Linked DNA regions of Homo sapiens: all the other regions are linked to region 1. Evidence: fine-mapped expression QTL. A gene starts in region 1. Each other region holds a variant in brackets. All regions are shown on one strand. Distances are between the middles of the regions. Region 1 holds the start of PDXDC1 (pyridoxal dependent decarboxylase domain containing 1). Region 2 overlaps PDXDC1 (pyridoxal dependent decarboxylase domain containing 1). Region 3 overlaps MPV17L-BMERB1 (MPV17L-BMERB1 readthrough). Region 4 overlaps RRN3 (RNA polymerase I transcription factor RRN3). Region 5 has its middle 19 kb from the start of NOMO1. Region 6 overlaps NOMO1 (NODAL modulator 1). Region 7 has its middle 44 kb from the start of MIR3180-4.

Evidence for each region. PIP is the estimated chance that this variant, and not a neighbour inherited with it, causes the effect.
Region 2: its variant is fine-mapped to the expression of PDXDC1 in whole blood (INTERVAL, PIP above 0.99).
Region 3: its variant is fine-mapped to the expression of PDXDC1 in whole blood (INTERVAL, PIP above 0.99).
Region 4: its variant is fine-mapped to the expression of PDXDC1 in whole blood (TOPMed, PIP above 0.99). The same link has a PIP of 0.9 or more in CD4 T cells and lung.
Region 5: its variant is fine-mapped to the expression of PDXDC1 in whole blood (TOPMed, PIP above 0.99).
Region 6: its variant is fine-mapped to the expression of PDXDC1 in whole blood (TOPMed, PIP above 0.99).
Region 7: its variant is fine-mapped to the expression of PDXDC1 in whole blood (INTERVAL, PIP above 0.99).

What each region holds. Positions count from the first base shown.
Region 1 is chr16:14,972,462-14,976,774 of GRCh38, forward strand. It overlaps PDXDC1 (pyridoxal dependent decarboxylase domain containing 1), which reads left to right and starts at 2,565. Exons shown (of 23, transcript NM_015027.4): 1 at 2,565-2,759. The coding sequence starts at 2,739. RefSeq lists a silencer at 1,431-1,725 and an enhancer at 1,883-2,646.
Region 2 is chr16:15,032,037-15,036,349 of GRCh38, forward strand. It overlaps PDXDC1 (pyridoxal dependent decarboxylase domain containing 1), which reads left to right. Exons shown (of 23, transcript NM_015027.4): 18 at 825-943; 19 at 1,242-1,363; 20 at 2,250-2,342; 21 at 2,421-2,517; 22 at 3,413-3,517; 23 at 3,980-4,313. The coding sequence ends at 4,239. Among named protein-coding and RNA genes, the nearest start is that of NTAN1, 22 kb to the right of the region's middle. The variant A/C (reference allele first, on the strand shown) is at 2,260.
Region 3 is chr16:15,463,213-15,467,525 of GRCh38, forward strand. All of the region lies in intron 1 of MPV17L-BMERB1 (MPV17L-BMERB1 readthrough), which reads left to right. The region is part of intron 1 of BMERB1 (bMERB domain containing 1); the gene reads left to right. Among named protein-coding and RNA genes, the nearest start is that of BMERB1, 31 kb to the left of the region's middle. The variant G/GATAT (reference allele first, on the strand shown) is at 2,134.
Region 4 is chr16:15,073,120-15,077,432 of GRCh38, forward strand. It overlaps RRN3 (RNA polymerase I transcription factor RRN3), which reads right to left. Exons shown (of 18, transcript NM_018427.5): 10 at 3,439-3,531; 11 at 1,604-1,742. It also overlaps a transcript of PDXDC1 not described here. Among named protein-coding and RNA genes, the nearest start is that of RRN3, 19 kb to the right of the region's middle. The variant T/C (reference allele first, on the strand shown) is at 2,044.
Region 5 is chr16:14,812,344-14,816,656 of GRCh38, forward strand. No RefSeq gene overlaps it. Among named protein-coding and RNA genes, the nearest start is that of NOMO1, 19 kb to the right of the region's middle. The variant C/T (reference allele first, on the strand shown) is at 1,716.
Region 6 is chr16:14,886,572-14,890,884 of GRCh38, forward strand. NOMO1 (NODAL modulator 1) reads left to right here. Exons shown (of 31, transcript NM_014287.4): 28 at 190-291; 29 at 2,525-2,644. Among named protein-coding and RNA genes, the nearest start is that of MIR3179-1, 13 kb to the right of the region's middle. The variant A/G (reference allele first, on the strand shown) is at 2,330.
Region 7 is chr16:15,196,815-15,201,127 of GRCh38, forward strand. No RefSeq gene overlaps it. Among named protein-coding and RNA genes, the nearest start is that of MIR3180-4, 44 kb to the left of the region's middle. The variant C/G (reference allele first, on the strand shown) is at 2,283.

The sequences.
Region 1 (4,313 bases):
GATTCTGCTGCCTCAGCCTCCCGAGTAGCTGGGATTACAGGCGCACACCACCACACCCACTAATTTTTCTATTTTTAGTACAGACGAGGGTTTCACCATGTTGGCCACGCTGTTCTCCAACTCCTGACCTCAGGTGATCCGCCCACCTCGGCCTCTCAAAGTGCTGGGATTACAGGCATGAGCCACCGCGCCCAGCCTTTTTTAAATTTTTAAATTTTTTATTATATTTTGTTTTTGAGACAGAGTCTCGCTTTGTCGCCCAGGCTGGAGTGCAGTGGTGCGATCTCTGCTCACTGCAAGCTCCGCCTCCCGGGTTCACGCCATTCTCCTGCCTCAGCCTCCAGAATAGCTGGGACTACAGGCGCCCGCCACCATGCCCGGCTAATTTCTTTTTGTATTTTTGGTAGACACGGGGTTTCACCGTGTTAGCCAGGATGGTCTCGATCTCCTGACCTCGTGATCCGCCCGCCTCGGCCTCCCAAAGTGCTGGGATTACAGGCGTGAGCCACCGCGCCCGGCCCAGCCTCTTATTTGTATTTTTATTGTTTTTTGAGATGGAGTCTCGTCTTATTGCCCAGGCTGGAGCGCAGTGGCACAATCTCGGCTCACTGCAACCTCTGCCCCCGGGGTTCAAGTGATTCCCCTGCCTCAGCCTCCCAGGTAGCTGGGATTACAGGTGTTTGCCACCACGCCCAGCTAATTTTTTGTATTTTTAGTAGAGACGGAGTTTCACTCTGTTGGCCAGGCTGCTCTTGAACCAGCCTCTTATTCTTTTACATACTATTTCCAGCACAACTGTCCAAGATGGCAGTCAATAAATGTTTGGCTAAATATAATAAATAATACGGTTGATTATTTCCACTTTTTCATGTTGGGTTTTCAAAGTCTACTTTTAAAACAGTAAAGTTAACTTTTCTCTCTAGTATTTGTTTTGTAGAATCTATTATACTTTGTAATGTAATCCACAGAAACTTGGAGGTGACTTTAGTAAAATTTACTAGTTTTGAATGATACCCATGCTGAGGTGCTCAGAGGTGAAATGTACTAACATATATCGATGGATGGATATATGGATGCATATGTGATTAAAGCAAATATAGGGAAAATTAACTGTAGAATCTAGGTAGTGGGTATATGGTTGTTCACTGTACAACTGTTTAAACTTTTCTACGTTTGAAAAATTTCATAACACGTTGGAAAAGTGACTTGTTTTGCTCAAGCAGGGGTACATTCAATCTTCAATTCTTGAAAGACATAAATCTATCTTTCCTTCTGTTTGGAAAGCTCTTTAGAGAGTCAGAATAATCCCCACAGTACAGTCTAAACCAGCACACAAGGGTTTTTTGGTAGAAAATAATTTTATTAACATAACCAGGCAATTTACCAAATACAACGTAGATAGCTCAAAACATGGAGTTACTGCGCTGAAAATGTGACCCTGTTTACACAGATTTCGGGACGAAGAGTATAAAACAGGAGAGAAAAGGAGTAAGATTGTGGTTGTAGCGTCATCGCAGAGGTGAAGTGTTCCATTGATTGCCACTGTGGTAGTCTATATCAGTTTCCCACATTAAGGTGGGAGGAATCTACTAAGCAAATGTACGCCCTCCCCATTCGTTCGAAACACATTGCAGTAAAATTGCAAAAGTGGCCGGGCGTGGTAGCTCATGCCTGTAATCCCAGCACTTGGGGAAGCTGAGACGGGAAGATCGCCTGAGGCCAGGAGTTTGAAGCCAGCTTGGGTAACATAGTGAGACACCCCTACCTTCTCTATTAAAATGAGATTTTAATTTTTTTTCTCTTCAGTTCATCGGTTAACAAGATAAAAAAATTAATAAAAAATTAACTTTTTAAAACATTTAAAGTAAAGTAGGAGTGGAAGCAGTATGTGGACTCATGGGGCTTGGGTCTGAATCCTACCTAGATCGGCACTGCGAAATGGGGATAATGATCTCCTAGAGCTGCTGAAATAGGAAAATGGAAGAACAGCAGCTGATGTATTAATATTATCATTATTACTACTACCCATTACCTGACAAGTGATAATTGTGACATGAAAGAGGCTGGACCGGTTGTTACAACAATTTTTTCCGTCTAGAATTCGGCGGTAAGGTCTGAGACAACACCTCAGCTTAGATCAGTGCCTTCTCTGAACAGCGTTCACTAAGCAGCCCCCAACCCCAAAACCCCCAAGTCCCCGGGCGCCGAGGACGCTGCGAGTCCTGCGCATGCGCAAGGTTGCCCACTCGCTCACCGCCTCCTTGGCGAATGGCCTGTTCCATTCTCGAGGGATGCCGGCGGGAGGTGAGGCGGGAGACTTGGAAGCCTGGGCCCGGAAGTGAGGTGCGTCACTAGTATTTCCAGCCTTTCACTCCATGAATAGTACTTTGTGATTATTATACTTCTACCTTGATGATTGCAACAGGCTGCTGGAAAGAGTTTGGTGAACAATCCACCGGGCATCCTCCCCCCTTCACCTGCGCACGTTAGGGAGGGCCGGCGTGGCGCCCAGGTACGGAATCCCAGAGGGCTCCGCCCAGCGCTACGGGGCCCCGCCCCGCCGCCTCTCAACCATCAGGTTCGGCAGCCCGCGGCGCCGCCTGGCAGCTCCTCCTCTTCTCCGCCCCGCCGGCCGCGGGCGCGGGGGACGTCAGCGCTGCCAGCGTGGAAGGAGCTGCGGGGCGCGGGAGGAGGAAGTAGAGCCCGGGACCGCCAGGCCACCACCGGCCGCCTCAGCCATGGACGCGTCCCTGGAGAAGGTCCGTGCCGGGAGGGGGCGATGGGGACGGTGCTGCGGCCCGGGGCTCCCGCTTCCGAGGCAACTGTTTCCCAGTCGCGAGCTGCCATTGTGACCCGGACAGGGGGACGCGGGCTGACAGGCCCTGCCTGAGGAGGCCTCGCCGGGAGGGCGGCTGGGGCCCGGGCGCGTCACGGGGCCGGGTGTCTCTTGGGTCCCCGTGGGCCGAAGAGGCTGGGCGGGGTTCGGTGGGGGCCGCGACGGGCCCGGAGCCCAGGACTGGGACCGCGGGGCCGACCTTGGGCCCTGCCGAGGTTCCGCGAGTGGCCGGCCTGAGCTCGGCTGGCCCTTTCGGAGGACCGGGAGCTCTCCGTTGGCGGCCCCAGATGCTCCCGGAAAGAAGCCGCAGTTATTTCAGAGCCAGCTGCAAACCTGTAGGTTTTTCTTGGTCTCCGAGTTAGGAATGAAAATTGCCAAAGCAGTGGTTTTCCAACTTCAGCCTGAGTGGGAATCACCTGGGGCCTTTGGTAAAATGCGGAGGTTCAGTCCCGGGGTCAGAACCTCTGGGGGCGGGACCGGGAACTGCGTGTTTAACCGCCACCGCCCCGCTCCCACTCCGCCCCACGCAGGTGATTCTGATGCTGAGCCTGCGATCACCGGGCGAGAACCTCTGAGTTCCAGAAAGGGGTGGGTGTTGCGTAGATTGCGAATTGAGTTTTGGGGATCGCAGCTGCTCCACAACTTCCTGGCTCCCCCATTCCAGTGGCGAGGAGGGATCCCCGAGTCAACTCGAAATCCACTGGTAACAGAGCCTACCTCTGGTTTCCCCTTGGGGGAACGGCAGCGTGGTGTACCAGGCTGACTGCTCTACCATGTGAAACGGATTCTCATTGTCCCAGTGTTAGGGCTTGTAAATGGAAACCAGTTTGGGTTTCTTCACGGATTCCTGCTTTCGGTACCTGACATTCTGCCCTCCCTCAAAGCCCTTCTGTCTGTTCCAGCTTGGGAGTCTGCTTGTCCAATCCAGTGCATACCCGGTTTTTCATGCATGTGGCATTCAGGAGCAATGCTCGTGTTTTAAGACGGCTACATTTTAATTTTGAGCTGGTAGGAATAATATATTTTGTCTTTTTTCAAGGCAGCAGCTGCTGTAGATTTTGTTCACTTGTCACTGGAGAGTTGAAGGCAATAATTGTAAAGGTTGGGCCAGATGTCTTCATGTGCTCACAGTGGTATAGCCTACTCCTGGGTTGCTTAGCATAAATTGGGTGGAAGACAAGAAAAAGATAATATGGTTTTCTTGTGCCATCTCTGGGGTGAATGTTACGTGTTTTCCTGGCTGGGAATAAAGTCTTTCCGGTCGTCTGATTAGCAGGGTGTCTACCTTTTGGTACTTTGAGTTTGTCCAGATGAGTGGTTCTTAAAGCAGGGGGCAATTTATTTCCCCAGGAGACATTTGGCTATCTCTGGACATAGTTTTGATTGTCACAATGGGGGCAGGGAGGTGCTGCCGGTACCTAGTGGGTAGAGGCCAGGGACGCCTCTAAACATCCTACGTTGCACAGGACAGCCCCCC
Region 2 (4,313 bases), 60 kb after region 1:
CGGTTTTCTGGGCATTTACAAAAGCACAGTGCAAGCAGGCAATTTGGCCAGCGTGGCGCTCAGGGAGGGGAGTTGCTGAATGTTCTGTCTGTAGGTGCCGACTCTCAGCTACCTAGGAGAAGATGCCAACAGGTATATATCACTCACTGAGAATGGTTACTATCCAGGGCATATAGAGAATTGCAAATCAGTAAGAAAAAGAACCCAGCTCTCGGGGAGAGAACTGGGTGCAGTCCTATGGCTGCTTTCTCGCCTTCAGAGGTGAGGCAAACCTCTTTTTGTATTGCCCATGAGACTTCCAGACCTTGTATGGAACTAAAGACTTAGGCTTTCAGCTGGGCACGGTGGCTCATGCCTGTAATCCCAGCACTTTGGGAGGCCAACAGGAGCATAGATGACTTGAGGCCAGGAGCTTGAGTCCAGCCTGGACAACATGGCGAAACCCCATCTCTAGAAAAAATACAAAAATTAGCCAGAGGTGGTGGTGCACACCTGTAGTCCCAGCTACTCGGGAAGCTTAGATGGAAGGATCAACTGAGCCCAGGAGGTGGAGGTTGCAGTGAGCCAAGATCATGCCACTGCACCCCAGCCTGGGCCACCAAGTGAGACCCTGCTTTAAAAAAAAAAAAAAAAGGCTTTCCTGTGACTTTCTCTTTACTCCTGGCACACTTCCAGAAAGTTTGTGGTCTGGAGACACTCGCAGTAGCTCTTTTGCCCACTGGTTCCACTGCATTGTCTTGCTAATATTTAGAGGTTTCTAATCCTGTATCAGAAGAGACATTTGATCTTTTAAGCTGAAATGCTGTGGTTTGATGTTGTTTTAGGTATGAACATGCTAATGATGATAAGAGCAGTTTGAAATCAGATCCCGAAGGGGAAAACATCCATGCTGGACTCCTGAAGAAGTTAAATGAACTGGAATCTGACCTAACCTTTAAAATAGGTAACTGCTTACTTTGTAAGTCAGCTGTGGGGTTTGGAAGGACACTTGGTAACCGGCTTTGAAGACGACGGCTCATCCCTTAGCGGGCTAGCGCCTCTCGGGCTGGGTTCCAGGCGAAGATGCGGTTCTGAGACCTCCCTCCCCTTCTGCAGCCTTGCCAGGCCTTTCTCTCCGCCCTTAGAATCTCCATGGAGGAGACCCCTTTGTGTGTGGTCAGGACCCTGAACAGGAGAGTAGGTCCACGTCTCACCCATGACAGAGGACTGAGAAACTCAAGTTTGTCTCGTTACCTTTGCAGGCCCTGAGTATAAGAGCATGAAGAGCTGCCTTTATGTCGGCATGGCGAGCGACAACGTCGATGCTGCTGAGCTCGTGGAGACCATTGCGGCCACAGCCCGGGAGATAGAGGAGAACTCGAGGGTCCGTAGCACCCATCAGTGTTCATTCCTCTTCTGAGTTTTGTCCCACCAAACAGCAGGGGCCACGAGGAAAGCAGCTGCCCTTGGGATGTCTGTTCGTTGTCTCTCAAAGTCTGTCAATGTTTCCTGTAAGCTGGGCCTTGTGCCAGGTGTCAGAGATGCCAAGTAGGTTTGACACAGCCCATGCCCCAGTGATCTCACAAGCTCAGGGGGAAAGATCCACATAGCCACGCTGTGTAGTAACCCTGCCTTAGAGAAGAGGGCGGGTAGCTGGACACTCAGGCAGACACATTCACCCCTGCCACCAAGGTCAGGGAGGACTTCTGCTCTGGAGCTGTGTCCTGAGGGTGAATGAAATGGGCTGTTGTATGTGTGGTTCCCCCTACACCCCTTCCCTATAGCACTTCCCACCAGGAATAGACCTACTGCTGTGGGTCCCTTAGCATGGAGGACCAGGATACAAGGCTGATAAGGTATCCTCCAAACAGATGATTACTTCCCTAAAAATCACTCAAAAGGAGAGAAGAGGGACCAAGGTAAGACTGCTCTGAAAGGAGAGAGACACGAGCCATTGGACATGCGGCCGAGAAGCCAGCTTCATTCCTTTCTGGGTGGACTCCTTAAGGTTTCTTTCCAGCCTGACTTTATGACTTCTCTGTTTTCAAGAATACGTAGCAAATGAGGCTGGTCACCAAGGTGTGTCTGCCTAGGCCTCTATGAGCATGTTATCTGCTTGTCTTTGAGTTTCTGTTCGTTTTACGCCGGCTTTTCAATGCAGGATTTCATTGACCTGCTTTTGAAAAATTCCCTCAGTGCTGTGTTACTAGCTCTTCTGGGCCCCAGGTGAGAACCTTAAACAAGTAATGTCTTTCTTGGTCTTGCCACAGCTTCTGGAAA[A/C]CATGACAGAAGTGGTTCGGAAAGGCATTCAGGAAGCTCAAGTGGAGCTGCAGAAGGCAAGTGAAGAACGGCTTCTGGAAGAGGTGAGGCCCCCGATGGGCAGCAGGCTGGGGGAGCCGCCGTGAGGCCAGGTGGCCCTGAACTCTGGTCCTGTCTTGCAGGGGGTGTTGCGGCAGATCCCTGTAGTGGGCTCCGTGCTGAATTGGTTTTCTCCGGTCCAGGCTTTACAGAAGGGAAGAACTTTTAACTTGACAGCAGGTAGGACGGCATAGCCTCTTCCCAGGTCTTGCTGACCTTGGGAGGTTTCACCAAATGCCCTTGGGTCCCAACACTTCCCACTGAGAATCCCGCCCTGGTTCCCGTTCTTCATCACTGGGTGTGGGCCGGACATCTGAGGAGACAAGTTCTGGTGTGCCCTGTCCTCCTCCCCACCGCACCCTGGCGGCTGAAACAGCAAGGAAGCAGCTACCCACTCTCCACAGCTGTCACCACCGCAAGGCCATGAGGACACGCCCACTCAGCCGTGCAGACTCTCAGGGTGCTGTGTCTTGGGCATTTTGGTTCAGGGTTAATACTTCTTGTCTTCATGTGTGTTCTGCCCCAGCAGAGGACAGCTTTTGCAAGTGGCAATGCAGAGACTGAAGCATGGAGTGCTGGCACGGTTTATTTTGAACCAGGCAGCCAGCAAGCGTTTCAGCCGCTGGAATGTGGGGAGGGTGTTAACAGTCCGTGACTCCTTTCCTGTTCTACCAAGGAAATAATTTCCTACACTCGAGCCCCTTCCTTCATTCTTTCCCAGGAAACGATGACTCCATTGTCATGAAAGCAAAAGATAATCTGATTTCTAATCTGCCAAGCCTTAGCCTTCAGCAAAAAGGCACCCACTTCTTGTGGCTACAGTACGTTTCCCTGTTGGGCCTGGCTCCCTGGGTGTGCTTACGCCATACTGCTGGCGGATGCTGGCGGTACTGGCCCTGTGAGGTGGCTTTCTCTAGCTCACGGCACATTCATAAGTGCCCTTCTCTCCACCAGTCTGTGGCAGGCTCAGTGGCTGGAAGGAGGTTATTGGGGAGCAAGGCTGTGTGAGGGCAGGTGGTGTCTTCAAGGGCAGCCTGTGCCTGTAGCTTCTACCCAGCCCTCTCCTCTCCCGCAGGCTCTCTGGAGTCCACAGAACCCATATATGTCTACAAAGCACAAGGTGCAGGAGTCACGCTGCCTCCAACGCCCTCGGGCAGTCGCACCAAGCAGAGGCTTCCAGGTAAGTGACGCCTCTGCACCGAGTTCAGGTAACAGGTTTCCCCTGTTGACTGTTACTTGCGTTTGTTTTCTGGGTTCTTGAACTCCAGAGGTCTATTTCTCTTAAGACCAACTACTACCATCTCTTTAACCATCTTGGTAGCCGTGGGATTCAGCCTTGAAGAAATCCCACGGTAGTGCGCTAAGGGGAAGTTGGGGTCTTGAAAGATGACATTGTCACTGTGGTGTTTACCCTCCTGGGCGTTTCCTAATGAAGATGACCTTAGAGTTCCCCGGCCTGGGGAGCATGTTGGTGTCAAGCTAGCAGCTCTCGGTTTTCTCATCTCCTAAAACACCTCAGAGCCAGTAAAGGTTTCTGCTGAAGCTGTGTTGTGAAATAAAGCAATTATCTGTTGCAGAGACAGCCTGTGTTGCAGAAGTATCCTCACTGAGTTTCAGCGCAGTCTGTCTGCCCTTTCTGTAGGCCAGAAGCCTTTTAAAAGGTCCCTGCGAGGTTCAGATGCTTTGAGTGAGACCAGCTCAGTCAGTCACATTGAAGACTTAGAAAAGGTGGAGCGCCTATCCAGTGGGCCGGAGCAGATCACCCTCGAGGCCAGCAGCACTGAGGGACACCCAGGGGCTCCCAGCCCTCAGCACACCGACCAGACCGAGGCCTTCCAGAAAGGGGTCCCACACCCAGAAGATGACCACTCACAGGTAGAAGGACCGGAGAGCTTAAGATGAGACTCATTGTGTGGTTTGAGACTGTACTGAGTATTGTTTCAGGGAAGATGAAGTTCTATTGGAAATGTGAACTG
Region 3 (4,313 bases), 490 kb after region 1:
GGGCCACAGGTGTGCACTAGTATGTCTGGCCAATTAAATCAATTAAATATATATATATTTTGTAGAGGCGGGGATCTCACTATGTTACTCAGGTTGGTCTTGAACTCTTGGTCCCAGGCAATCCTCCTGCTTTGGCCTCCCAAAGCCCTGGGATTGCAGGCATAAGCTACATCACCTGGCCTGAAATACGCTTGAAGGCATCCTTTGAACCACTGTTATCACAGAAGTGTGGTCAGGTTCAGTGTGGAGAGTGAATGAGAAGCTGGGCAGGAGCCTGTGCGAGTTGGGCTTTGTGGAGACACACAGAAAGATGCCCCCCACTTTAACCACCTTCCCTTGCCTCGTCGTTTGACTGCTGAGGTCTTACTCACACTCTGAGACTGTAGCTTTCACGTGGCCTCCTCTAATATATTTTCAGTGTAGCCTTAACAATGAATCGTAGTAACTTCTCACCTTACATGCTCCCCAAAAGATGTCACTTTGGGAGAACATATTCAAGGAACCCTCCCCAATCCTGACCCCCATCCCCACCCCAGCTCCTGCTGCTGTTGACACAACTGCCTTAGCTGTGAGGCTGTGCCATCCATTGGAACCTGGGACTTTCCAATGTTGGGATGCCTCAGCATCATCAAGCAAAATTGGGGTTCTTTTTGTGTATGCTTTAAAAAAAAAAAAAAAACTTGAAGCATAAAACTATTACTGGAAAGTGGTCCTGATCCAGACTGCAAGAGAGGGCTCTCGGATCTTGTGCAAGAAGAAATTTGGGGCAACTCCATAGAGTAAAGTGAAAGTAGTTTATTAGAGAAGTAAAGAATCAAGGCCGCGCACAGTGGCTCATGCCTGTAATCTCAGCAGTTTGGGAGGCCGAGGCGGGCAGATCACCTGAGGTCAGGAGTTCGAGACCAGCCTGGCCAACATGGCAAAACCCCATCTCTACTAAAAATACAAAAATTAGCCAGGTGTGGTGGTGGGCGACTGTAATCTCAGCTACTCAGGAGACTGAGGCAGGAGAATCACCTGAACCTAGGAGGCTGAGGTTGCAGTGAGCTGAGATTGGTCCACTGCACTTCAGTCTGGGCGACAGAGTGAGACTTCATCTTAAAAAAAAAAAAAAAAAAAAGGATTCCAAAGAATGTCAGGTATGGTGGCTCATACCTCCCAGCTCTTTGGGAGGCCAAGGCGGGAGGATTGGTTGAGGCCAGGAGTTCAAGACTACACTGGCCAACATAGAGAGACCCTGTCTCTAATTTTTTAAAAAAGAAGAAACTAAAAAAATGGCTTCTCTGTAGGCAGAGCAGTCTCGAGTGCTGCTGGTTGACAATTCTTGTGGTTATGTCTTGATCGTATGGTAAACAAGAGGTGGATTATTCATGAGTTTTCCGGAAATGGCACAGGGAATTCCTGAAACTGAGAATTCCTCTTCCTTTTAGACTATATTGGGTAACTTCCAGAAGTTGCCATGGCACTTGTAAACTGTCATAGTGCTGGTGGGAGTGTCTTTTAGCATGCTAATGCATCATAATTAGTGTATAATGAGCAGTGAGGATGACCAGTGGTCACTTCTGACACCATCTTGGATTGGGCAGGTTTTGGCCAGCTTCTTTATTGCACCCTGTTTTATCAGTGGGGTCTTTGTGACCTGTATCTTGTGACCTCCTGTCTCATCCTGGGACTAAGAATGCCTGACTTCCTGGGGTTGCAGCCAAGTAGGTCTCAGCCTTATTTTACCCTTATTCAAGATGGAGTCACTCTGGTTCAAATGCCTCTGACAAAGCCAGCATAGATGAAGACCTAACACCCTTGAGCAAATGAAAGATCTGTGTGATGGAACAGTTGCGTGTCTTGATTGGGGTGGTTGGTTACCTGAATCTGTACATGTGATAAAATTGCACAGAACCACACACACACATACACACACACACCAATGAATTGGATGTAAAACTGGTGAAATCTGAATAAGGTCAGTTATGCAAAATGTCATCACTGGGGAACATTGGGTGAAGGTTTTTTAGGACCTCTCTGACATACAAACGGATATAAATCAGCAATTCTCTCCAAATAAAAAGCTAAACAACAAAACCGACCCCAAACACTGACACCTTGTATCCATCATCCAAATTTGGTCAATGCTAA[G/GATAT]ATATATATTTTTTTTTTTTTTTTTGAGACTGGGTCTCAATGTGTCACCCAGGCTGGAGTGCAGTGGTATGATCTCGGCTTACTGCAAACTCTGCCTCCTGGGTTCAAGCGATTCTCATGCCTCAGCCTCCCAAGTAGCTGGGATTACAGGCACCCACCACCATTCCAGGCCAATTTTTGTATTTTTAGTAGAGACAGGGTTTCACCACGTTGGCCAGGCTGGTCTCAAACTCCTGACCTCAGGTGATCCGCCTGCCTTGGCCTCCCAAAGTGCTGGTATTACAGCTGTGACCCACCGCACCCAGCCCTAAGATCTTTGTATTAGTCCTTTTTAGAAAAATAAAACAAAACCTTAAAGATTCAGCTGGAGACTCCTACTCAGTCCTTTTTCTTTCCAGAAATGACCCTTGTCATGGAATTAATATGTATTTATCTTTTCCACATTTGCTTTTACTGTATTATGTGCATAGTCATAAACAATCTGTGATATCCTGTTATACATTTCCTTTGGTAGCTTATTTTGCCACTAAACATGTTTTCAGGATTTATGCATGTTGAAACATGTAGATCAATTCTTTTAATTTTTTAACTGCTCAAAGTATTTCTAATAGGTGAATATACCACAAATTCTTCAACCAATCTTCCACTGATAATAGGTTGTTTTCCATTTTTCAGTATTACCAGACATTGCTATCATGGCCATCCAGGTATAAATGCCTTTTTGGGTCAAGAGTTTCTGCAGGGTTTTTATCTAGAATTGAAAGTGCTAAGCAGACAGTATGCACATACTAAACTTCAGTAAACATTGAGAAATTGCTATCCAACTGTGACTCTATAAATTTATGGCTGTCCCAGCAGGTGGTAATAATCACCATTTCCTTATATTTTCACCAGCCAACCTGATCTTTCCAGACTGTTAAAAGTTTGCCAATCTGATGGATGTAAAGTAGTATTTCATTGTTATTTTATTATTGTGTTTTCCTGATTTCCAATGAGGTTAGACATCTCTTCATAGGTTTATTAGCTGGAATTTCCTCTTCTGTGAATCCTGAGGTCGTACCCTTTTGCCCTTTTTTTTTCTATTGTGTTGTCATTGTCATAGGTATTTTTTGTATTTTGTTCCCGATTGTTTTGTATGTTTGTGTATTATAAATTTCAGCTTGTGGCCTGTCTTTTAAAAAAAGACTTTTTATTTTGAGATTATTGTAGTTTGCGTGCAGTTGTAAGAAATAATACAGAGATCTATGTATGCCTTTCACCCATTTTACCCCAATGGTGACATTTTGGACAGCTAAATACAGTATCAAAGACAGGAAATTGACATTGATACAATCCATTCATCCTATTCAGATTTCACCAGATTTATGTGTGTGTCTGTGTGTGTGTGTGTGTGTATTTAGTTCTATACAATTTTATCATATATTTAGATTTGTGTGACTATCAACAAAGTCAAGATACAGAACAGTTCCATCACAAAGGTTCCTCCTGCTACTTTTGTATAGTTACAGTTACCTTGCCCCATTCAACCCCTAGCAACAACAATTAGTTTTCTATTTCCATAATTTTGTCATTTCAAGAATATTAAAGAAATGGAATCATGCAGTATATAACCTTTTTGAGATTGGCTTTTTCACTCACCGTAATTCTCTCAAGATCCATCCAAGTTGCTGTGTGTATCAGCCATTCATTCCTTTTCATTGCCAAGTAATATTCCATTGTATGGATGTACCATGGTTTGTTTTACCCATTGAAGGACATCTGGATTATTTCCAGTTACAGGCTATTATGCTTAATGCTGCTATGAATACTCTTATGCAAATTTTTGTGTGAACATAAGTTTTCATTTCTCTGAGATAAACGCTCAGGAGTGCAGTTACTGAGTTGCTTCAAATGCATATTTAGCCTTATAAGAAATTGCCAAACTATTTTCTAGAGTGGTTGTACCATGTTACATTCCCATTGGCAGTGCACAAGGGATTCAGTTTCTTCCCATCCTCACCTGCATTTGGTGTTATCATTATTTTTTATTTTAGCTAGTCTGATAGGTGTGCAGTGACATCTTGTGGTTTTAATTTGCATTTTCTTTATATCTAATGCTGTTGCACATCTTTTTATGGGCTTATTTGTATGTCCATCTGTATAATCTCTTCAGTGAAATGCCTGTTCATGTCCTTTGTCCA
Region 4 (4,313 bases), 100 kb after region 1:
TATTTTCAAGTTTCATCTGCCATATTTTTTATAAACACAACACCATTAAAAAACAACATTATCCAGCCAAGCACAGTGGCTCCTGCCTGCAATCCCAGCACTTTGGGAGGCCAAAGTGAGAGGGAGCCCGGGAGTTCAAGGGCAGCCTGGGGAACACAGGGAAGCTCTGTCTCTACAAAAAATCAAAAAATTAGCCAGGCATGGTGGCACGCCTGTGATCCCAGCTACATGGGAGGCTGAGGCGGATGAACCGCTTGAGCCCAGGAGGTCAAGGCTGCAGTAAGCCATGTTTGTGCGACTGCATTCCAGCCTGGGTTAGAGTAAGACCGTGGCTATTTAAAAAAAAAAGAAAGACAGACATTATCCATTAAAATACCATTAAAACAAAATGCTACTTTTAGTTTACACAGATTTTCCTCTGAATATAATAATCTAACACCTGCAAGGAAGCAGGCCCTCACCTCACACACTGTGGCAAGGTCAGAAATGCAAACCCTTCTGAAGAGCAATTCTATCATTCGTGTAGCAAAAGACCTCTAATCCGATCATTTTACTGTTAGTAAACAGCTGAATATATAGGCACAAGTATGTTCATTATAACTGTTACTTATCATGGTGAAAACAGTAAAAGACAGTTAAACCCATGTGACCAACAACATTTATTATTACGACTTTTTTTTTTAGAGATGGGGTCTTGTTATGTTGCCCAGGATAGTTAGTCTTGAACTCCTGGCCTCAGTGATCCTCCCACCTTGGCCTAAGTGCTGGGATTCAATAACAATTATTTTAAAACAGGCAATGATATGAGAAAATGTTTATCTTCAGCATCCATGTAAAGGGCAGATTATGAAACACTTGTGTTTAGTGTGACACCCAAATTCACTAAAAAATACTCTCCTACATATACAGACGCTAACAGAAAAGGGAAAAAAGTCAAACTTCAAAATGCTCACAATGGTTCTCTGAAGAGTAGAAATGTGGCCATTTAAATTGTTTTTATCCTTTCCTGTAGTTTCCAAATTCTCTAATCAACATGTATTATTTTTATAACAGCAAGACCGTTAAAACAGTAATGCAGTCAACTCAGATTCCAGTTCTATTATTCTGACTCACTGAGCTCATCTTAAATCTTAGCAATGTGAATGGAAAAAAATTCTGTTTTCGCCTGGCAAAGCCTTTAAAGTTCCATGAAGTCAAGAAGCACATATAGTACTAACACTGGCACAACAATGGTGCCAGGCAAAGACCCTCTAAACTCAATACATAACGGAGCACCATATATTAGTGCACCCTACATCATTCTTCAGTGCATTCAGCAACTTGAGCGTAATTTGATCTAAAACTGGCCAAACTCCATATATAATCTTTCAATACAACAATCAGTGAAAAGACAGAAGACAAATATAACTCAGCCAGAATCCCAGTCCCATTTTCAAGCTATGTGACTGGCAAGTAACTTGACCTCTTTAAATCATCTTAAACTCATACTCAATAGATATTTTTACAGGATTTTTAGTATTACTAGAGATAATGGATGGAAAATGCCCAGCACAAAGCCAGGTACACTGCAGGTGTTCAATAAACAGTAGCTACTGTGATTTACCATCTACATAGCAGACATCCTTCATGTAGGACAAAACCAAAGACATCAGGATGTCCAGGCGCTCGGCTACAGGATGCACCATCTGGTCGAGCCGTTCAGGACCAGCCTTTGTTTCATGTTCAGTTTCTTCATCTTCATCCTTTGAAGACAAAAAGTAAATACTAACATTAAAAAATTCAATGTCAAAGTGGTTTAGTAGGAAAACTGTCATAAGTGATTATTTCCCTTAAAAGATAAAACAAAGAGGCTGGGGAAAGCGGCTCACATCTATAAGCCCAGCACTTTGGGAAGCAGAGGTGGGGGGATCACTTGAGGTCAGGAGTTTGAGACCAGCCTGGCCAACATGGTAAAACTCTGTCTCTACTAAAAATACAAGAATTAGCCAGGTATGGTGGTGCACGCCTGTAATTCCAGTTACTCAGGAGGCAGAGGCAGGAAAA[T/C]AGCTTGAACTGGGAGGTGGAGGAGGCTACAGTGAGCCGAGTTCGTGTGCTCCAGCCTGGGCAACAGAGGAAGACTCTGTGCCCCACCAAAAAAAAAAAAAAAAAACTAAACTAAAACAAAGAAATGGACCACGCACAGTGGCTCACGCCTATAATTACCAACACTTTGGGAGGCCAAGGCAGGAGGATCACTTGAGCTCAGGAACTTGAGACCAGCCTGGGCAACACAGTGAGACCTGTCTCTACAAAAATAGAAAAAAAGTAGCTGGGTGCGGTGGTACACTGTAGTCCCAGCTACTCGGGGAGGCTGAGGTGGGCAGATCACTTGGGCCCAGGAGGTCGAGGCTGGAGTGGGCCAAGATCACACACTGCCACACTCCAGCCTGGGCAACAGAGTGAGACCCTGTCTCAAATTAAAAAAGAAAGAAAAGAAAGAAAGAAATGCAGACACCTTTCCAGGCAGGGGTCTCATTCAGGGATGTGAATCAGAACCACCAGTGAAATTTAAAATAAAAGCCAAGACTCACAGCACCAGCTTCTGATTCTCATTGAGAAGACCCAATGAGACCTATCCATGCAAAAATCACAGATGCCCCCTACCTCTGCTCCTGGTGCCCACCATGGCGGGTGCTTTTGGTGCCGGGCCCCCTTTTGCAGGTCGGGATATCCACCTCCCCACTGCTGTGAGTACTGGCGGCCAATAGCTCACAGCCGCCTACTTTCTCCAGAGCTGCCCTGAGCAGAAAGGAGCCAGGACCACCCTTGCACTCTTTCCAGCCCCTCCCCCTTAGAACCAATGACTGATTGACAAGGCATCAGAAAAGGACATCTCCTTGGTCTCAAGCTGGGAACAAACTCTGTAGACCAATCCATGCCCCAGAATGCCTGGTGGGAGCAGGCTGTAGCGACCTCCCAAGTGAGACCCGGCCCCCGTTTAGCTCCCCTGCCCTCTTCTGCTCCCTGACACCCTCTGTCCCAAGGGCACCTGAATCCCTGTCTCAGACTCTCCTTCCACTGAACCCAACTTCAGATACCACCCAAAAGAAGTAATGCTATAAAGTGTACAAGTGGTAAAATGCAGAAATTAAACAGGTATGCTTTTCTATTAACCACGCCCTCACAGACAGCATCTGGCTTACAAAAACAAACACTGAAAGTTACAAGAACAAAAGTGAAACATACTTCACCAAACCCAAATTCAAAGCCTTGGAAATAGACCAACTATGCTAAGTGCTAAATGACATGGCAGCAAATTACTCATATAAGGAATCGTTTTCAAGTTTGCTGAACTATTTTAATTCTTTCAATCTAAAGCCTTAACAAAGATGAGCAGCACTAGCTGTTTCCACCCTTTATGATAAACTTCATCTCCACTTTCATTAATAAACTGCTAACCATATTAAACAATCCTTCCGTGGAATCTGTCCCACCACAAGTTTGAGTTGCTGTTTCTTCAGCATCTTCAATACCCTGCCGGGATGCATTCACCTATAACAAAGGGAGAAAAAAAAAGAATAAAAGGATTTAAAAAATACAACTATGTTATTTTGGGATGGAAATTCATCTGATATACGCATGTTCAAGGTGTCCAGATTAGTGCCTTATATCACACCCCAACACAATACACAATTATGGTGCAAGCCTGTAAACTGACCTAGGTCATGAAGGAATTTAAATATAATAAACCAAGCCCCTTTTACTACATACTTATATAAAATCGACAACTATCACATGATGCTCTATGCCAGGCAGCCTCAACAAATTCAACATTTATTCTAGCTCTGATATGGTCTGGCTCTGTGTCCCCACCCAAATCACTTTTTTTTTTTTTTTTGAGGCAGAGTTTTGCTCTTGTTGCCCAGGCTGGAATACAATGGCAAGATCTCGGCTCACCGCAAACTCCGCCCCCCAGGTTCAAGAGATTCTCCTGCCTCAGCCTCCCGAGTAGCTGGGATTACAGTCATGTGCCACTGTGCCCAGCTAATTTTGTATTTTTAGTAGAGATGGGGTTACTCCATGTTAGTCAGGCTGGTCTCGAACTCCTGACCTCAGGTGATCCACCGGCCTCAGCTTCCCAAAGTGCTGGAATTACAGGCATGAGCCACCGCGCCTGGCCCCAAATCTCATCTTGAATCGTACTCCTCCTGTAAGTCACACATGTTGCTGGGGGGGGACTGGTGGGAGATAATTTGAATCATAGGGTAGGTTTCCCCCATACTGTTCTCGTGATAGTGAATAAGTCTCAAGAGATCTGATGGTTTTATCAGGGG
Region 5 (4,313 bases), 160 kb before region 1:
CTGGTCTCAAACTGCTGACCTAAGATGATCTGCCCACCTCGGCCTCCCAGAGTACTGGGATACAGGCATGAGCCACTGTGCCTGGCCTCAAATTCATATTTGAACATTTATTCAAATTTGAATTTTAGGGGGACATAATTCAGCCTGTAGCACTGTCAACCTAAAAGGAAGAAGCTGAGGCAAAATTAATATAAGTAAAGACTCTGTTTGGGCCAAGCTTGAGGACTGTAGCCAGGGAGCGTAGATTCAAGTTTCCCTGAATATACACTCCAATTAGCAGCAGTTACAAGTGGATTTATAAAGGCAAAAAAGGGGGACATGGAGTGGGCTGGTACACAGTTGGTTGTCAGGAATTCTCACTGGTTTTCAGAAATAACATTGATGAGTGATTGGCTATACATTGTTAAGCTATAAGGTGTGGGTTATAGCATCCAGTGGGGGCATTATTAGATTAATTTATAGCTACTTGTGGCAATGGCAAGCAGTTTTAAGAAATGAATACCGAGCTCAAAGGGGGTATGTAGGACATGATTGCTATCTCGTTCTATTGCCTCTCTGGGCCTAATAATTTAAAAGGCTTGTATTCCTCAGATGAAAGTTCTGTTCTTTTCTCAGCACCTTGAATGGCTGGAGAGAGCACCACCCCATCCTTGACCACGCTGAGTGCTGGCTGGACTTCAACTGGGCCAGTACTCCCTTTTCCCTTGTGGAAGGTCCCCTGATTAATGCTTACCTGAACGCCTGCTCTTCCTTCAGTCCCCAGTTCTCTGCATTCCCCAGCACTGGGAACAGAGACAGCATGTCTGTGTTATACAATAGGGAAGAGTATGGGCTCTGGCTTTAAACTTTGACTCTGCCCCCTTGTTAGCCCAGCGACTGTGAGCAAGTCATTTCACTTCACCCAACTTGTTTTCCTTTTTGTACATTGGAGGTTACTAAAAGCACCTTACCTGTCCAATTGTAGAGAGGATTAGGTGTATTAATGGGCATGGCACAGTAAACACTCACAAAATGCTAGCTACTATTAATTGTCAAGATTATGTTGGTTGCAAGGAGCAGAAACTCATATGGAAGTCATTTAGGCAATAAAAGGGGATAATTTATTGACTCTCATAACCAAATCCAGGAAGGTAGGAGAGCAGTTGAGTGGCAGGGGCAACTGGAAAGAGACCATTCCCCATGTCTGTCTGTCTGTCATATCTTTTTCATTTTTATATATATATATTTTTACCATGGTGGGTTTTTTTTGTTTCTTTTCTTTTTTTGGTTGTTTTTTCCATCCTTGGCTAGAACCATGGCTGCCAACAAGCTTCTCTGTTTCATAATGGGAGACCTTCTCATGTGGTTATGATGTGAAAAAGATCCCAGGGAAGGACTCTGATTGGTTCAGCTCGGGTCACATAGCCACCCACGTGGCCAGGTCAGGGGCTGGGGTGCTTAGGTGGGGCAGGGGGTTCTGGGTAGATAAAAATAATTAATGCCTTCTGCCTTATCTAAATGTTCTTTGTACTATGCCTGGCACTTGGTAGAAATTAAACAAATTCCCCTTTTTCCCTTTCTGTTTGACCCTCATGTCTACTTTTTATTACATAAAAGAGTAATCCAGAAAAGAAAGTCAGCTCATTGGAGACACTGGGTAGGGAGAAAAAGCTTTTTATAGAATATTAGGTAGGAGTAGTGGCTTAGGATGGTAAGAGCTCTGCACGAAAGGAAGA[C/T]ATTACGGTCTAAGGCCACCTGGGAGATCTGAGTCAAGCAGCTCTATCCCTTCCTGAGGACAAAAGAGATTTCAGGCAATGACTCATATTTGTTTGGAGAGCTAATTGACAAGACATATTAAGAGTTTTAGCAATTGTTCATGCTTTTTGATCCAACAAATTCACTTCTAGAGTGTCAAGAACTGTGCTGGTCTAAGATATTATCCTACATGGAGGCTAGCGAGTTTTATGGATGTGGGCAGAAGACATGAGACTCTGGATTGAGAGATAAAGGACTTTATTTTTCATGGTACAACAGGAAGCTTGAGCTTCATGTCTGCACCAGTTCCCTTTGACCCCCAAGTCCCTCAAGGGTGACACAGGTTGACATGGTTTGGCTGTGTCCCCACCCAAATCTCATCTTGAATTGTAGTTCCCACAATCCCCATGTGTCATGGAAGGGACCCAGTGGGAGGTAATTTAATCATGGGGGCAGTTATCTTCATGCTGTTCTTATGATAGTGAATGAGTTCTCACAAAATCTGATGGTTTTATAAGGGGCTTTTTCTTCTTTTGCTCATTCTTCCCCTTGCTGCCGCCATGTGAAGAAGGACATGTTTGCTTTCCCTTCTGCCATGATTGTAAGTTTCCCGAGGCCTCCCTGAGTCAATTAAATCTCTTTCCTTTATAAATTACTCAGTCTAGGGTATGTTTTTTGTTTGTTTGTTTTTTTGGTTTTTTTGAGACAGAGTTTCACTCTTGTCACCCAGGCTGGAGTGCAATGGCAGGATCTCAGCTCACCCCAACCTCTGCCTCACAGGTTCAAGCAATTGTCCTGCCTCAGCCTCCTGAGTAGCTGGGATTACAGCCATGTACCAACACACCCAGCTAATTTTGTATATTTAGTAGAGATGGGGTTTCTCCATGTTGGTCAGGCTGGTCTTGAACTCCTGACCTCAGGTGATCTGCCCACCTCAGCATCCCAAAGTGCTGAGATTACAGCCATGCCTAGCCTTTTTTTTTTCTTTTTTTGAGACAGAATCTCACTCTGTCGCCCAGGCTGGAGTGCAGTGGCTCATTCTTGGCTCACTGCAACCTCCACCTCCCGGGTTCAAGCGATTCTCCCACCTCAGCCTCCTGAGTAGCTAGGATTATAGGTGTGCACCACAATACCTGGCTAATTTTTTGTATTTTAGTAGAGATGAGGTTTCACCATGTTGCCCAGGCTGGTCTCAAACTCCTGAGCTCAGGCAATCTGCCCACCTCGGCCTCCCAAGGTGTTAGGATTACAGGTGTGAGACACCACACCCAGCCTTGGGTATGTTTTTATTAGCAGTGTGAGAAATGAGTAATACACGGATGGATCCAGGTAGAATCTGTGCCTGCAGTGGATTTGCATCACACCTGAGGAACCCCAAGTTTAGGAATCTTGGTCTTTTCAACCTTTACCCTGGATGGAGGGAGACATTGTCATTATAATCCTTTCTTTTTCTTTTTCTTTTTCTTCTTCTTTTTTTGTTTTTTGTTTTTTTGAGGTAGAGTCTTGCTCTGTCACACCAATGTTGGAGTGCAGTGGAATGATCTTAGCTCATTGCAACCCCTGCCTCTTGGGTTCAAGCAATTCTCCCACCTGTCTCCCAAGTAGCTGGGATTACAGGCACCCACCACCACACCCAGCTAATTTTTTAAGTGTTTGTAGTAGAGACGGCGGTTTCACCATATTGGCCAGGCTGGTCTCAAACTCCCAACCTCAGGTCATCTGCCTGCCTCAGCCTCACAAATTGGTGGGATTACAGGCATGAGCCACTGTGCCTGGTCTGGAGATATTATCGTTATAATCCTAATCAGCAAATAAATCTGTCTTCTACTATATTAGCCCTATCTTCCAATGCTATTAGCTATACAAACATCCTTATGAAGACGGTCTAGAACAAACGCTGACACAAGATGTGCAGAAATGTAAGAGACACATGGGGAATTGTTGCACAGCATAGAGAATCTTTCCTAAGGAAACTACATCTGAAACACACACAGAAAATGTATGCTTAAAGCAACAATAGTTCAGCATTAGGGGAAGAGGTTAAACAGACTGTTGTTGGGATATTCTTCTCTTTCTAAACATGTTTCTGAAGATCTTGGAATGGGAAGTGTAAACGTTCAACTTAAAGTGTAAAGTGGAGCAAAAAGCTGCAAAACTTGAATGTATGTTTTTATTAACTACGTAGAGACATCTATTCTAGGAAAACCTCGGGGGAGACTTGCTAAGATGTTCATAGTCCTCCTCTGGGCAATGAGTCTAGGAGCCACTGTTTTTCTTCATTTGGAATGTTCATAGTCCCCCTTGGCCAGGGTTCTCTGGTTTGCAGAGATGAGAGCTGGTTTTATTGAGCACTGACCCTGCCCTGAGCACATGCGACATTCTTGCCATACACAGTCTCATCAGCTGGAGTTTACTTGCTTCCTTTGACTCATGGGGAAACCAAGGCTCAGAGAAGTGACAGCACCTTGTTCAAGGACACGCAGATGATCTGGTCCAAATTGTGATGCTCCTGCTGCCACACCACAATGATTTTTGCATCTGCTGCCCTGTCATCTGGTCAGAAACACCCTAATTTTCTT
Region 6 (4,313 bases), 86 kb before region 1:
ATGATACATAACTGGATGGAGTCTCAGATGACAGAGGGATGTGTGATGTCTATGGAGGGAGCTTTCTTTTTCAAATATCCATGTTTCCAAAGACACCCACCCAGAAAGCGGCTGTCCTGAGGATGTCTGCTATGAAATATTGATTGTGTTTCAGTTTCAAAGCATGTCTGACTTTGTTTCTCCCTCCAGGTCAAGCTTTACAAAAGCGAAAACCTCGACAATCCAATCCAGACAGTTTCCCTTGGCCAGTCCCTGTTCTTCCATTTCCCCCCACTGCTCAGAGACGGCGAGGTAATGCCTGTGGCCGGATTCTACCTTCTGCCTTTGTTTTAATAATTCTGCTGTTTAGTTTAAGGAAGCACAGTTCTCTCCTTTTCTCCCTAAATACCACTCTGCAGAAATACGCTCTCTGAATCAAAAGAGGTTGGGTTCTGTAGGGATTATTTTTTCTTCATTGTTTTTCTGTTTACAAAAAGAATACATATTCATGGCAGGAGATTTTGGGAAAAAGAAGACATAAGCCCATCATCCAGAAATAGCCACTGCTAACACGGTGATTGGTATCCTTTGGGTCTTTTTTCAGGCACGTGTGCGCATGCATGTATAAATATAAATAGACATTTATTTTAATAATTCAAAACTGACACTGTTTTGTACATTGTTTTGTAATCCGTGCTTTTCAATGAAGAATTTATCACAAATCTGTTCCTCATCATCAAATCTTTCTTTTTTTTTTTTTTGAGACGGAGTCTCGCCTTGTCGCCCAGGCTGGAGTGCAGTGGCGCAATCTGGGCTCACTGCAAGCTCCGCCTCCTGGGTTCACACCATTCTCCTGCCTCAGCCTCCGAAGTAGCTGGGACTACAGGCGTGTGCCACCACACCCGGCTAATTCTTTTTTTTTTTTATTTTTAGTAGAGACGGGGTTTCACCATGTTAGCCAGGATGGTCTTGATCTCCTGACCTCGTGATCCACCTGCCTCGGCCTCCCAAAGTGCTGAGATTACAGGCGTGAGCCCCCGTGCCTGGCCAAATCTTTCATACTATGATTTTTATGGACAGTAGTCCATAAACTAGGAAACGCCATGATTTATTTAACCAAGGCCTACTGTTGGGCATGATCGACTCTTGCACTTTGAACATATCACCCCATGCTTTCCTGCTAAGAAGTCCACTTTTAAAAATGCCTTGTAATTTTTAAAAATTCCTCTATTTAACATTCTGCTATTGAGTTTAAGGAAATACAGTTTCCTCATGATGGGGGATCCCTTGAATGAGATGAGTTGCTTTTCTCTTGCTGCTTTGAACGTTCTCTCTGTCTTTGATAATCTGATTATAACGTGTGTCGTGTAGAACACTTGCAGCTCCACCTTTTCAGTGTCCTTTGGGTTCCATGAATCTGGATGTCTCCCTCCTTGGAACTGGGAAGTTTTCAGCCATTATTCTGGCCGTCATTTACTGATTATAAAGTGCTTATTATCAATTCTATTTGGACAGAGCTAACTTGTAGTTGGTGTGGGGAGTGCAAACTTTGCAAAGAATTTGGTTCTTTTCTGGTGGTCTTAGCCTGAGGATGTCAAGTGTGAGCCTAGAGGGTGACGTTTCCTCTCCTGGCTCCTTACCACCTGCCGTGAAGATGATCTACTCTGGCCTTTCTCTGTGGAAAATGGCTGCAAAATAATGAAACAGGCTGTCACGGAATTTTCTCCTCCTCTTTCTCCAGGGGTGTTGAAATAGTCACTTCCTACAGCGATGCGGAAACATCTTGGGCTTTGGGGTCACACTTCCCCTGAGTTCAGAGCCTTCATAGATGTGTGGCAGCCTTCTTAGCTGAGTGACCTTGGGCAAGTTACTCTTAGTCTCTTCGTGCTTGACTTTCCTCGTCTATAAGACGGGGTGATGATCCCGACCTTGCCAGTGGTAGAAAGCAAAGCAGCCGCGGGCCTCATGCAATGTGCATGGTGCCTGGCAGCTGGTCGGTGCTCAGCACACAGAGCTGTGATGGGTCTCATGCAATGTGCATGGTGCCTGGCAGCTGGTCGGTGCTCAGCACACAGAGCTGTGGCTGCCCCTGGTGCCGTTCCAGGGATGCTGTATTTTTAGGATTTGCCAGCTTACGAGCCTCTCAAGCATCGTCCCTTTGAAGTCAGCCCCGTTGTGGATCCTCAGTTGTATCACGTACCTCCCTCATCAGAATTGGCTCATAATAATTTTTTGTGTTTCATAAAGTCAGATCCTCAGAGGACCGTAATTGTCAAGGTTGGGTACTCATAAAAAGGCTGCAGGCTCTGACAGCCTTATCAGAAGCCACAGTCTCAGAGACACTGGGGAC[A/G]CATGCCCGCCACTGATGGAATAGCCCGCTGAGGTTGATACTTTGAAGGCAGCAACCTTGGTTTGGATGTGTAGTCTTGGGGATTTCTTTAAAAACATAAAGTTCTTTACATCACAGCCATACGTTAGGTTTTAGTTTTCATTTGCTTTGCCAGAGCTGTCCTTGTAAAAATAACTTCTTCCCATGTGTGCACAGAACTATGTTGTGCTTCTGGACTCCACACTCCCCAGATCCCAGTATGACTACATCTTGCCTCAAGTTTCTTTCACCGCAGTGGGCTACCATAAACACATCACCTTGATTTTTAATCCCACGGTAAGTAAAAGAGGGAGTTAAAAAAAAACCCATGGGCTGGGTTTGGTGGCTCACGCCTGTAATCCCAGCACTTTGGGAGGCCAAGGCTGGTGGATCTCTTGAGCCCAGGAGTTTCAGACCAGCCTAGGCAATACGGTAAAACCCCAACTCTACAAAAAATACAAAAATTAACCGGGCGTGGTGGAACGCACCTATAGTCCCGGCTACTCGGGAGGCTGAGGTGGGAGGATCACTTGAGCCTGGGAGGTTGAGGCCTCGATGAGCCATGATCATGCCCCTGCACTCCAGCTTGGGTAACAGAGTGAGACCCTTTCTCCAGAAGAAAAAAAACAAAACAAAACAAAACCAAACAATCCATGGGGTGGCGAAAGAAGGCATGTCCATACAACCTGTGCTCCAGATCGCAGGTTGCAGGGCAGATATTTAAAGGGCTCCTGGCATTGGGTCACTTTCTCATTCTGCCTTCTGGATTCTGGGCTTCCCCAGATTGTTTTTAGCTTTTCTGAGCACTGATGCCTGCGATTCCCTTTGAGGAGGAAACTGGTAATAAGAGCAGTGTAATTGTTTAGATCGGTGGCTCAGGAATGATTTTGGGGGAGGAGGGACACCACTATCGCTGGTGTGGCGTGTGCTTCTCCATGAGGGAGCACATGGTACATGGCCACGCAAACCTCTAGAACCAACTGCTACTTTACAGGAAATAGGGAGGACCCAGGAGCACGCAAATGACTCCACAGGGATGCAGGACAACCACCTGGAGCCTGATTTGTTTGACAAATAAATTGCAAGGAAAAAAAAACCAACAACAGATGGACAGAATACCTGTGGGTTAAAAGAAACTTAACTTATCGCTTAATTCATTGCAATATGTGGCCCTTACTATTTGCAATATGTGTATCTGTTGCATACGGTCTGTCCTGTATCCGATAGGCTGGAACAGTGGAACAAACAAAACATACACGTATCTTTTACCTTCTTGATAAAATTGTTTAGTGATTCCTAAAGCTCAGATGCAGTATTGTCACCTGATGATTAAACAGACACATCAGCAATAGCAAAAACAGAGTCCAGGGCTCAGCCTCAGGACTGCTGATTCTGAACTTGACGGGGTGAAAGTGTAGCACAGGAGTCTGCATTAAAAACAAAAATCTGGCCTCATAGCTACTGTGTTGGTTGTTGCTTCTAGGCCTTTTCAGTGGGCAGAATAAGAACTTTATTGTTTTCAAAAAATGTAACTGTAAGTGGAACAATATCCTCCGATCCTCCTTTTTCCTTTTTTGATAACGACACAGCATTCCTCTGTGTGGATATACCGTGTGTCTTAGGCCATTTGGGCTGCTATTTTGTATCTTAGACTGGGTAACTTATAAACAACAAACATTTATTTCTTACAGTACTAGAGGCTGGGAAGTCCAAGATCAAGGCATTGGCAGATTTGGGGTCTGGCGAGGGCTTGCTGTCTGCTTCATAGATGGTGCCACCTAGCTGTGTCCCCACAAGGCGGAAAGGGGCAAACAAGTTCCCTCAGGCCACTCTTACGGGGCATTAATCCCTGACTTAATCACCTCCTAAAAAGGGTGTCCTCTTGACACTATCACATTATGGATTAGGGTTCAACCTATGAATTACGTAGGCACAGACACATTCAGATCCTGGCACTACATGTAGG
Region 7 (4,313 bases), 220 kb after region 1:
CTGACCTCAAACAATCCATGCACCTCGGCCTCCTGAAATTACAGGTGTGAGCCACTGCACCTGGCCAATCTAATCATTATTTACTGGTCACCTACTAGTTGCCTGGCAGATGTGATTCCTCTCCTTCAAGGAGTTAACAGTCTAGGCAGGGTAATTGTGCAAAACTTGTAAGATTAAAATTCTGATAAAACATTAAGAGAAGAGATCAGAGTGCCATAAGCCAGAATAAAGAGGGTGAAACTGATTCTACTCAGGGAGTCAGGAAAAATCTCCCTGAGGAAGTAATGTCTACACTAAAACCTGAAGGATAAGGAAAAGTTAACCTAGTAAAGAGTGGGAGGGAAGAGAATTTCTGGCAGAGAAAACAGCACATGCAAAGGCTGAGTATTTAGGAAACCAGAAGAATACCTGTGTGGCTGGAGTATGTTAAGTGAGAAGGAGAGAGAAACGATAATTACTTTGGCTATGGAACTCCAGGCTATTATCTGGGGTGACATTTTCCCTCAGGTTGGAATCCAGATATGTGAGACAATTAACATTTCATAAAAATAACTTTTGAAGCAATGTTTGTCCACCTTTCTGTATCTCAGTTGTCTCCTCTGTAGAATAGTGTTAACCCTTCACTGGATGATCATGAGTGTTAAATAGGATAACAAGTATACGATTATGACAAGAAGGCTGGGCCCTTTTGAGCACAGCAGCGACATCCTCATCATCTTCTTCAGTGTTTAGCCATACCACTCCAGAGAGCTCCACCAAGAACCAGAGAGGTGCTTCCCTACCTGCATGACTTCTCTGAGATGCTCTCTAGCCCACACACAGCAGAGGCACCCACCTGACACCTTCACCTGGCCACATCTGATTGGACCAGAGTGTACACCTCCTACTACCCGGACCTATCATATTCCTACACCTGGGAAACTCTTACATTCAGATAGAGGCGCAATTGATCAGAGTGCATTAGAAGCTGGAGCTGTAAGGTCATGAAGAAGAAGTCCCAGGGCCCTGGGCAAGTAGAAACTGGGAAACAGCAAACCCTGAGATTCCAACGGCAGGCGCCAGTCTGCAGAGAAGAGAATGGAGCAGATGTGCAGAGGTAAGCTCCAGAGAGTGAAATGGAGAAAGCGGCTGATTAACAACATTCCAAGTCCCATGAGGTCCAGCTGCATACGTCGGATTTCCAGAGAGCCTTGTGTGTCCAGACAGTAAAATTTCATATCCACTTTAATCTCTTTGAATGGGTTTCTATTCCTTGCAATTGAATTATCACTGTCTCAGAGGCCCATCAAAGTGGAGAGCTGAGGCCACCCTTCCTTAAATCAGACCTAAAATGTAACCCTATCTTGCTAACAGGACATAATACCGGAACTGAGGACCCCACCACCATCTCAAGGCCTTCACACAGGCTATTCCCTTTGCATAGAAAGCTCTTCCACCCGCTCCTTTTGCAAAACTAAATCTCACTTATCTTCCAGGCTGCCCCCTTTGAGCATCGCTTGTAAAGACTCCCACTCCAAAGTGGACCCTTGCTGTGGTTTCCATAGCTCTCAGGACTTCCCTTTGCATTGTGTAACTCACTTTGGATCACTCGTAAGATGGCTGCCACCCTACCATATGTGACATTCCACACTTGCATCCTGTTTCTTGCTTATTCCCCAGGGTTTGAGTGGGGGACACATAGTAGCTGCACAATAAACATCTGATTAATGCATGATGGATAGTCTAAAAGGATCAAATTGACATTCTACTGAAAAAGAAGAGTTTCACTTTAGCCTACTAGGTGCTCTACTCTATGCAAGGTGTTGGAAACACAAAGATGAATTAGACATCATCCCTGTGTTTAGGTCTTGAAAAGCCTAAGGGAACAGGTGGATAGGTAGATAAATACGTTTATGACAATGTAACAACGTGAGTGTTAGGAGAGAGAGAGACTACAATAGGTGTATTTCTGAAGGTTTTTTGGATGACAGGGGAAGAGAGAGAGATGTTGTAGAGGGTCCTAGTGGCCCCCACACCATCACTCCTCAGAATTTTTGCAGAAAACAAATGTAGTGAGCATCTGATTGTTGGCTGCTCAGCATCTACTCTCTAATTCTGAATATAGCACTTCATTTTTCCTTTTGGTAAAGCACCTTCCTGCCCTCTCAGCCCACCAGCACACTGGTGTAACTGGTATCAATTCAACACCTCTGTCCCCAGAGTCAAGGATGGATGTGTGTCCCAAGCCTAGTCAATCAGAATACTCCATCCTCACAAGGAGTGGTTCAGGGATGATCATGTGA[C/G]AGTTTAGTTAAATGAGAGTCAATCTGGGAGTGTAAATTAGTTCAACTATTGTGGAAGACAGTGTAGTGATTCCTCTAAGACCTAGAGGCAGAAATGCCATTAGACCCAGCAATCCCATTACTGGGTATATATCCCAAAGGAATATAAATCATTCTATTATAAAGATACAGGCACTTGTATGTTCACTGCAGCACTATTCACAATAGCAAAGACACGGAATCCATCTAAATGCCCATCAATGATAGACTGGATAAAGAAAATGTGGTACATATACACCATGGAATACTATGCAGCCATAAAAATGGATGAGATCATGTTCTTTGCAGGGACATGAATGGAGTTGAAAGTCACTATCCTCAGCAAACTAATGTAAGAACAGAATATCAAACACTGCATTTTCTCACTTATAAGCAAGAGCTGAAAAATGAGAACACAAGGATACCTGGGGGGAAAAATGCACACTGGGGCCTGTCAGTCAGAGTGGTGGGGGACAGAGAGCATCAAGAAGAATAGCTAAGGGATGTTGGGCTTAATACTTAGGTGATGGGATAACCTGTGCAGCAAACCACCATGGCACATGTTTACCTATGTAACAAACCTACACAACCTGCACGTGTACCCCTGAACTTAAAAGGTGAAAAAAAAAAAGATAAGAGTATATCTCAGAATTCCTAGGGAGAAGCAAGGAGAAAGATAAGCTCTTCTGTCACTAGAACCCCTAACCTGGCAGCAGCCTTCAGCTGAGCTGCTGAAGCCTGTCTTGGGACTACAAGGGGAAAAAAACTCCCCAAAAATAAATCTTACAAGGAAAGTAGCAGGCCTGAGAGAAAAAGCCACTTCTGATGTCAGTTTGAACATCTGGATCCAAATAGATTCATCCTGGATTTTTCAGTTGTGAATCAACAAATTCTACTTTTTCTGTTTAAGCTTGAGTTCCTGAACCTCAACACTATTGATAGTGTTTGGCTGGATGGGGGCTGGCTTGTACATTGCAGGATGTTTAGCAATGTTCCTGGCTTCTAGAGCCATTCTCACCCACGAGTCATGGCCACCAAAAACAGCTGCAATCATTGCCAACTGTCCCAAGGGGCAAAATCACCTCCTATTGAGAACCACTGGTTTAAACCAGTTTTCAGGTTCCTATTGCTTGCAACCAAAAGTCACGAGCATACAGTAACCTATCAAATAATTCCCTACCCAATTTCCAGGAATAATTCTCACTCCTACATGCTTTTACTTTCCGTGGTACCTGGAACATCTTTCTATGGGCTTTGCTTTCCAAAGCCAGTCTGTTGATTTTACATTTTTTAAATATTGGTGTCAATGAAAGTAAGTCAATCAGATCAAGAACAGCTTAGCTCTCAGTCCCAGCAGTACTTGTACAAGTGACATATTTGGGGACATTGATTATACTTTTTCTTCCTCTTAAAAATTTAAACATCTTCCCTCATTTACTTTCTTTATTTTAGAATTCTCAGCAGTCAATTTTCTTTTATCTACAGGCCTTCCCTTCGATGGGAAACTAATCAATAAGAAATTAGATTTTTGCCAAGGTATTTTAAAGTAATGTAACCAGCATATTTTTCTCTCATTCATGACTTTATTATTGTGAAATGAAAACAGAAATACCACATCCTTGAAACCCTCATTTTATTAAGCTCCATCACAGCTACCTTCATTCATCGGAGCCATCTCTTCCAACGTCATTGTTTTGGGTGAAGCTTGTGTTTGATCACCAACCTCATATTTTAAATTGAAACTCAGCTGGAGTAGAGTTCTTCCCTCTGAATGAGGGATAGCAGTCTGGTAATTAGCAGCAAAGCTCAAGCAGACAGGCTGCATCCACTTATTCTATCTGAAATTCTTTTCCTTTTCTTTTTTTTTTTGGCCAGTAATTACTCTTATCTTGGTGAAGCTGACCCACCTCTTGGCCCCTCAATTGGAGTCTCCCTTTCAAGAAAATATCACATTGTGTTGAATAAGAAAATCAAAATGGAAATGAAGCTTCAAGAGGAGTCTAGCTACCATCT